2 linked regions of the Homo sapiens genome follow. The protein of the gene in region 1 interacts with the protein of each later gene in a pairwise test. Each region holds a gene or a part of one and is shown in the gene's direction. Other genes may lie near its edges.

Region 1 (3,751 bases):
CAGAAAGAAGGGGGAAAGACAAAGGGCAAAATATGTGTGCCAATTGGGTCTATCACCTTCTATCCAGAAAATAATAATTTTCCCAGAATCCCTCCCATCTACTTAACATTTATTGACCAGAATGATATTGTAAGTGACCCAGGGACATTTCACTTCTTTTTTCTTTCTTAGATGAATAAATCCTTGCCCCAATCCAAATTGAGGCTCTGTTAGTAAGGAAGGAAGGGCAGGGAAATTGGGCAGGTAGCAGCATCTGCTACAGTATTTTAGTGAAACCTTGTTACTAATGTCTTACATTGCAAACATTAACTAGTTCGTCATATACTGTGAAGTTAAATAGAACTAAATTAATTTGCATTTCTCTAATGCTGAGTGATGTTGAGCATTTTTTTCATGCTTTTTGGCGATTTGTATGTCTTCTTTTGAAAAATATCTATTCATGGCCTTTGCCCACTTTATAATGGGGTTATTTGTTGTTGTCGAGTTGTTTGAGTTCCTCGTAGATCCTGAATATTAGTCCTTTGTCAGATGCATAGTTTGTACATATTTTCTCCCATTCTGCAGGCTGTCTTTTCACTCTGTTGATTATTCATTTTGATGTGTAGAAGCTTTTTAGTTTATTTAAATCCAATTTGTCTATTTCTGTTGCATTTACTTTTAAGTCATGAATTCTTTGCGTAGGCCAATGCCCAGCCCCCTAGGTTTTTTTCTGTTATTTTTATAGTTTCAGGTCTTACATTTAAGTCTTTAATCAATCTTGAGTTGTTAATTTTTGTATATGGTGAGACATTGGGATGGGTTTCATTCTTCTGCATATGGTAATCCAATTTTCCCAGCACCATTTATTGAATAGGATGTCATTTCTCCAGTGTATGTTTCTGTTGACTTTGTCAAAGATCACCTGACTGCAGGTATGTGGCTTTGTGTCTGGATTTTCTATTCTGACAATGAGATACAATCTTACACCAGTTAGAATATCTTTAAAAAGTAAAAACATAACAGATATTGGTGAGGATGCAGAGAAAAGATGGTATAAAGCTTGTTCTTAGCAATAGGGGAAGTGATTGTGGCAGTCAGAAATTTTATTGGAAAGCCGTGGAAGAGAATCCAGGAGGGGCAGAAAATAAGTTGTTCTCCTTGTCATGACCCAAGAAGAGTTTTCCATTCCCCCCAATTCCCCAACTCAACTAAGTTGGAAAGAATCAAGCCAATATACTTTTAGTACGACAGGTACATAAACTAACAACATATGTTATATTCAAGTGACAATTTTTTTCTCAACTAAAAATCATGTGGATGAGCTATTTTTTTAAGTGTGCATTTTAGAACAGTACTTCTGTATGTGGAGGGATCCAGGTGCACAGGCTTCTGCAAAGACATAGTGTCCAATCCTCAGTCTTGCATTCTCCCCTCCCTCCTCCCAGGAAAGCAGGGCTGGTGCTCAGGGAGATGGGTTGAGAGTGATGCTGCCAAGTGCCTGCCAGCTGCAGTATATTCAGCCTACAGAGTGAGCAGTGAAGGAAGTGGGGGAGGGAGGTGACCAGTAGAGATGAGAGAAGGAAAGAAAAACTGAGGTTGATATTCAATATAAAGAGGCAAGGCAGAGAAGGGGAATGAGCCATCTATGTGGGGGCTCATAGGAGAAAACAGACCAGGAGAAGAAATATCAAGGGTAGAACCAGAGAAATTTTGTGAAGAGAGGGGGGTGGTTGCAGCAGCTTTTTAATTTTAATTTAATTTAATTTAATTATATTTTATTTTTTGAGACAGAGTCTCGCTCTGTCCCCCAAGCTGGGGTGCGGTGGCATGATCTTGGCTCATTGCCATGTCCACCTCCCGGGTTCTCAAGCGATTCTCCTGTCTCAGCCTCCCGAGTAGCTGGGACTACAGGTGTGTGCCACCATGCCTGGCTAATTGTTGTATTTTTAGTAGAGACGGGTTTCACCATGTTGACCAGGCTGGTCTCGAACTCCTGACATCGGGTGATCTGCCCACCTCTGCCTCCCAAAATGCTGGGATTACGGGTGTGAGCCACTGCACCAGCTGCAGCAGCTTTTTATAAAATAAAATGAGGAGTGTTGTTCAAGGCACAAATAAATAGTAATGAGGAACTCTAGAAGAGTTTTAGACTGGAATATAAGCTTTGTGGAACATTTACCCACATTTAGACTGCTCAAACTAACCAAAACATCAGGTTTCTTGCCTTCAACTAGACTACTAGCCACCTGGCATGATGATTATTGGTTAACTCAAGGGAAATAACTTATTACTTAACAAATGTTATTGGTAGTAAAGATATGGAATCAACCTAAGTGTCCATCAACAGATGATTGGATAAAGAAAATGTATACACACATACACACAATGGAGTTTTATTGAGCCATAAAAAATAATGAAATCATGTCTTGTGGCAACATGGATGGAACTGGAGGCTACTATCTTAAGTGAAATAACTCAGAAAGTAAAATACCACATGTTCTCACTTATAAGTGGGAGCTCAATAATATGTACCCAGGGACATAGAGAGTGGAACAGTAGACATTGAAGACTTGGGAGGGTGAGAGGGGAGCGAGGGATAAGAAATCACTTAATGGGTACAATGTCCACTATTCAGGTGTTAGCTACCCTAAAAGCCCAGGCTTCACCACTACACGCAATATATCCATGTAACAAAATGACACTTGTACCCCCTAAATCTATAAAAATAAAAAAAGTTATTGGTTAAATAAACTATAAAGCCTGAAGTCCTCAAGGAGAAAAAAAAAATAAAAGGGGTTATTGGTGAATCAATATCAGGAACCACTGCTTTTCCCTTTATTTTTGAAAATAACTTTAGGAAATACTTGACTGTCTCAAAAACTATAACTAGAAGTATTCATGGGACATTCTTTTCTAGCTTTGTATGACTCGGCTATTGGATACTAAAAATCCATCCCTGGACACTATTAAGATGCAAGTCTACTTCGATATGAATTATACGAATCGAGGTAATGTATACTACCTATTTTTATACTTAAAAAATTTCATACTGTGTTTCAGCTAAGAAGGGCTTCATTTGGTTGACAATGAATTTAATTGTTTAATCAATTTAACAATTTAATTTTTGGCAATCAACTTTGAGGAATACAACGTTAGAAATGCTAAATGAAAAAAAACCATTGGCCTTTGTGAGTGTTAAAAGTGAATTCCAATTATTGTGCTCATAATTATTGTTTCCAGTGGCACTAATACATAATAATTAGGAATTCAGCCCATTGAAGTTAAAAGTTTTTAATTTATAGATTTTCTTGTTCCTGGTTTATGTTATTATCTCATTATAATTACCTAAATTATGTAACTATTCAAAAATGAACGATGGGGAGTTTAAGTTTAGAAAACGTTTCAATATGTAAATTTTTTTTGAGACAGAGTCTTGCTCTGTCACCCAGGCAGGAGTGCAGTGGCACGATCCACAGATCACTGCAACCTCTGACTCCCATGTTGAAGCAATTCTCCCACCTCAGCCACCCGAGTAGCTGGGACTATAGGTGTGTGCCACCATGCCCAGCTAATTTTTGTATTCTTAGTAGAGACGGGATTTCACCATGTTGCCCAGGCTGGTGTCGAAATCCAGGCCTCAAGCGATCTGTCTACGCCTTAGACTCCCAAAGTGCTGGGATTATCAGTGTGAGCCACCATGCCTGGCTCATTATGTAAATAATTTAATGCATACATCAAAGACAAGTTGGAAACAAAAGAAAAAGGAAAATGT
Region 2 (3,751 bases), on another chromosome or scaffold:
GCAAGGCTCACGCCTGTAATCCCAGTGCTTTGGGAGGCCGAGGTGGGCAGATCCCAAGGTCAAGAGATCGAGACCATCCTGGCCAACAGGGTGAAAGCCTGTCTCTACTGAAAATACAAAAATTAGCTGGGCATGGTGACACACGCCTGTAGTCCCAGCTACTCGGGAGGCTGAGGCAGGAAATCGCTTGAACCTGGGAGGTGGAGGTTGCGGTGAGCTGAGATCAGGCCACTGCACTCCAACCTGGCGACAGAGCAAGACTCTGTCTCAAAAAAAAGAAAAAAGAATCATCTGAAGAAATTCTGAAAATGCTGATGCTTGCATCCCACCCAGGGAGATTCCAGTTTAACTGCAGTGGTTGGCCCAACCAACACTCCTTGGGAAGTTCTCATGGACAGCAAAGATGCAGAACCAGTCATCCAACCTACCCCTCTTCCACATTTCAGATGAGGGAACTAAAGCACAGAGAGGTTCAAAGTTGGGTCCTTCCTAATAATAATAACAACACCCCACTAAATAGCAACAGAGGGGACTGAGGCCCAGGTGTTCTCCATCCATACAACAGGGCAATAGGAAGCTTCCTGCACATGGCCAATCCCTGGCCTAGCACTGACTCTGGCTCATGGCTGCCCAGAGAATGGTGGAAGAATATGATGCAGAAGGACCTTCAGGGCTCCAACGAGGTGGGTTTGGTAAGACTGAACCCCTCCACATGCATTTTCCTATATTTCTCTTTAGCTAGAGGCAACGAGGCATGCCAGGGTCTTGGTGACAGATGGTCATTTGCTCAAGTCCTGTCTCTGCCCTCTTCCTAGTTACATGAACTTGCACAAACTAGTTGATCTCCACTGGCTTCTGTCTCCTTGACTGTAAATGTGGATAATACTATATTACATATTCACAGAGCTGCTGGAAGGCCCAACGATCAGATCATTTGACTGGCCAGGGGCATGGTCTCTGGCTGGCTTTGCAAAACTGTGAGGGAGGAAGCCTGGGTCTTCAGAACTCTCGACTCTCTTTTGTGCCTTCAGCTTTCACCATAGCAACATCTCTTCTGGTCCCACGTGTTCTTTCCAGCTGTGTTCCCTCTCAAAGCCCACACACGCAGGAAGCGACCTGTAGTAAAGCCATTTACTACAGAACACAGAGGTTCCTGCTAAAGTCTACATATTATGTAACTGAAGATACTTGCATTGTAAGCTTTGTCACGACTTGTGGAAAGAAAAGTTTTGCTGCGCCTGAAAGAATCCCAAACCTGAGAGAGAAAACAGGGAAAAAAAAAAAAAAAAACAGGCGAGGGGTCGGCGGGAGGTGGGGGGATGGGTAGCCTCAGGGCCTCACCCACTCTTCTGTATTGTTGGGGGTGAGGAGGGCCTGGCCGTGCCAGGGTCTCTGAGGAAATATGCCTGACGAGGCTGAGCGGTGTGTTTGCACACACCTGTGTGGGCTGTGGTCCACCCTCTTGCACAGGTCGTTTCTCTTGTCGAGTTGCTGGAAAAAGAGAGGAAGGGCTTTGTCTTCTAGCCCAGATTAATAGAGTGTGTGATTGTCTCTGTGCTGCTGTAACCAATTATCACAAGCTGGGTAGCTTAAAACAACAGAAATTTATCCTCTCACAGTTCTGGTGCCCAAAAGTCTGAAATCAAGATGTCAGCAGCAGGCCGGGTGCAGTGGCTCATGCCTGTAATCCCAGCAGCTTGGGAAGCCAAGGTGGGCAGATCACCTAGGATCAACAGTTTGAGACCAGCCTGGCCAACATGGTGAAACCCTGTCTCTAGTAAAAATAAAAAATTAGCTGGATGTGGTGTCATGCGCCTGTAGTCCCAGCTACTTGGGAGGCTGAGGCACAAGAATTGCTTGAACTCAGGAGGCGGAGGTTGCAGTGAGCCAAGATCGCGCCACTGCACTCCAGCCTGGGTGACAGAGTAAGACTCCACCTCAAAAAAAAAAAAAAAAGTCAGCTGGGGGCCTTCTCCTAGAACCTTTAGGAAAGAATCTTCCCTGGTCCTTCCAGCCTTGGCTGCTGTGGCCTCATCACTCTGGTCTCTGCCACCATCTTCACTTGGCCTCGTCTGTGTGCATCGCTCCTCTGTGTACCTGTTTCAAAGTTCCTCTGCCTCTCCTTTAAGGATGCATGTGATTGCATTTAGGGACCACCCAGATAATCCAGGATAAACTCCTCCTCTCAAAGTCCTTGGCTTAGTCACATCCTTTCAGATATAAGGTCATAGTCACTCTCTTGCCATGTAAGGGAATAGCCACAGGTTCCAGGATTAGAGGTTAGAACATGTCTTTAGGGCCACCATTCAACCCATTGCAGGGAGTGAGAAGAGGTCAGATCCCAGAAAGCACGCAACACTGTGACTCGGTTTTTGGTAAAATCCATTCTCATTTAAGCTAGGAGAAAAATTGGCAAGTAAGAGGTGGGGGAAGCGGGGAGCATCTGTTTGGTGCAGACTCTGTGCAGGGCTTTACATGGATACATATTGACAAGAGCGAATGTTTATGGAGCATTTAGCAGATCCAGGCTCTGTCCTAAGGACTGCACACAGACTAGCTCATATAATCCTCATATCAGCTTCACATATGACCCCCTTTTATCGATGAGGAAATTCAAAAAGGTTATGACCTACCCAATGTTGTCACAAAGTAAAACAGCAAAGCTAGGATTCCAAGCTAAATCTGTTTCACTTCAAAACCGGTGTTCTTTCTACTGCAGAATGTCTTTTCCTTGGCCAGCAATAAGGTTTAATAAAAAAAAAAAAAGACATCAATGGAAAATCAAATTAATGAAACATTTATTTTCACAATCAAGCTCTTATTCCATTGTGTTGTGGATTTTTAAAGTTCCCACGCACAGATGTGCAGGGGTTTTTTTGTTTGTTTTTTGTTTTCTTTTATACTTTAAGTTCTAGGGTACATATGCACAGTGTGTAGGTTTGTTACATATGTATACATGTGCCATATTGGTATGCTGCACCCATTAACTCGTCATTTACATTAGGTATATCTCCTAATGCTATCCCTCCCCCCTCCCCCTACCCCACAACAGGCCCGGGTGTGTGGTGTTCCCCACCCTGTGTCCAAGTGTTCTCAATGTTCAGTTCTCACCTATGAGTGAGAACATGTGGTGTTTGGTTTTCTGTCCTTGCGATAGTTTGCTCAGAATGATGGCTTCCAGCTTCATCCATGTCCTTACAAAGGACATGAACTCATCCTTTTTTATGGCTGCATAGTATTCCATGGTGTATACATGCCACATTTTCTTAATCCAGTCTATCATCGATGGACATTTGGGTTGGTTCCAAGTCTTTGCTATTGTGAATAGTGCTGCAATAAACATACATGTGCATGTGTCTTTATATCAGCATGATTTATAATCCTTTGGGTATATACCCAGTAATGGGATGGCTGGGTCAAATGGTATTTCTAGTTCTAGATCCTTGACAAATCACCACACTGTCTTCCACAATGGTTGAACTAGTTTACAGTCCCACCAACAGTGTAAAAGTGTTCCTGTTTCTCCACATCCTCTCCAGCACCTGTTGTTTCCTGACTTGTTAATGATTGCCATTCTAACTGGTGTGAGATGGTATCTCATTGTGGTTTTGATTTGCATTTCTTTGATGGCCAGTGATGATGAGCATTTTTTCATGTGTCTGTTGGCTGCATAAATGTCTTCTTTTGAGAAGTGTCTGTTCACACCCTTCACCCACTTTTTGATGGGGTTGTTTGATTTTTTCTTGTAAAT

Evidence for each region. The genes of interacting proteins can lie anywhere in the genome.
Region 2: the proteins of CFAP206 (region 1) and ANKRD55 interact in binary tests that used the Homo sapiens proteins (3 or more experiments, as listed by UniProt).

What each region holds. Positions count from the first base shown.
Region 1 is NC_000006.12:87,410,914-87,414,664, forward strand, and holds part of CFAP206 (cilia- and flagella-associated protein 206), read left to right. Parts: intron 1-2,896; coding exon 2,897-2,987; intron 2,988-3,751. UniProt on the Homo sapiens protein: Essential for sperm motility and is involved in the regulation of the beating frequency of motile cilia on the epithelial cells of the respiratory tract. Required for the establishment of radial spokes in sperm flagella.
Region 2 is NC_000005.10:56,226,633-56,230,383, reverse strand, and holds part of ANKRD55 (ankyrin repeat domain-containing protein 55), read left to right. Parts: intron 1-3,751.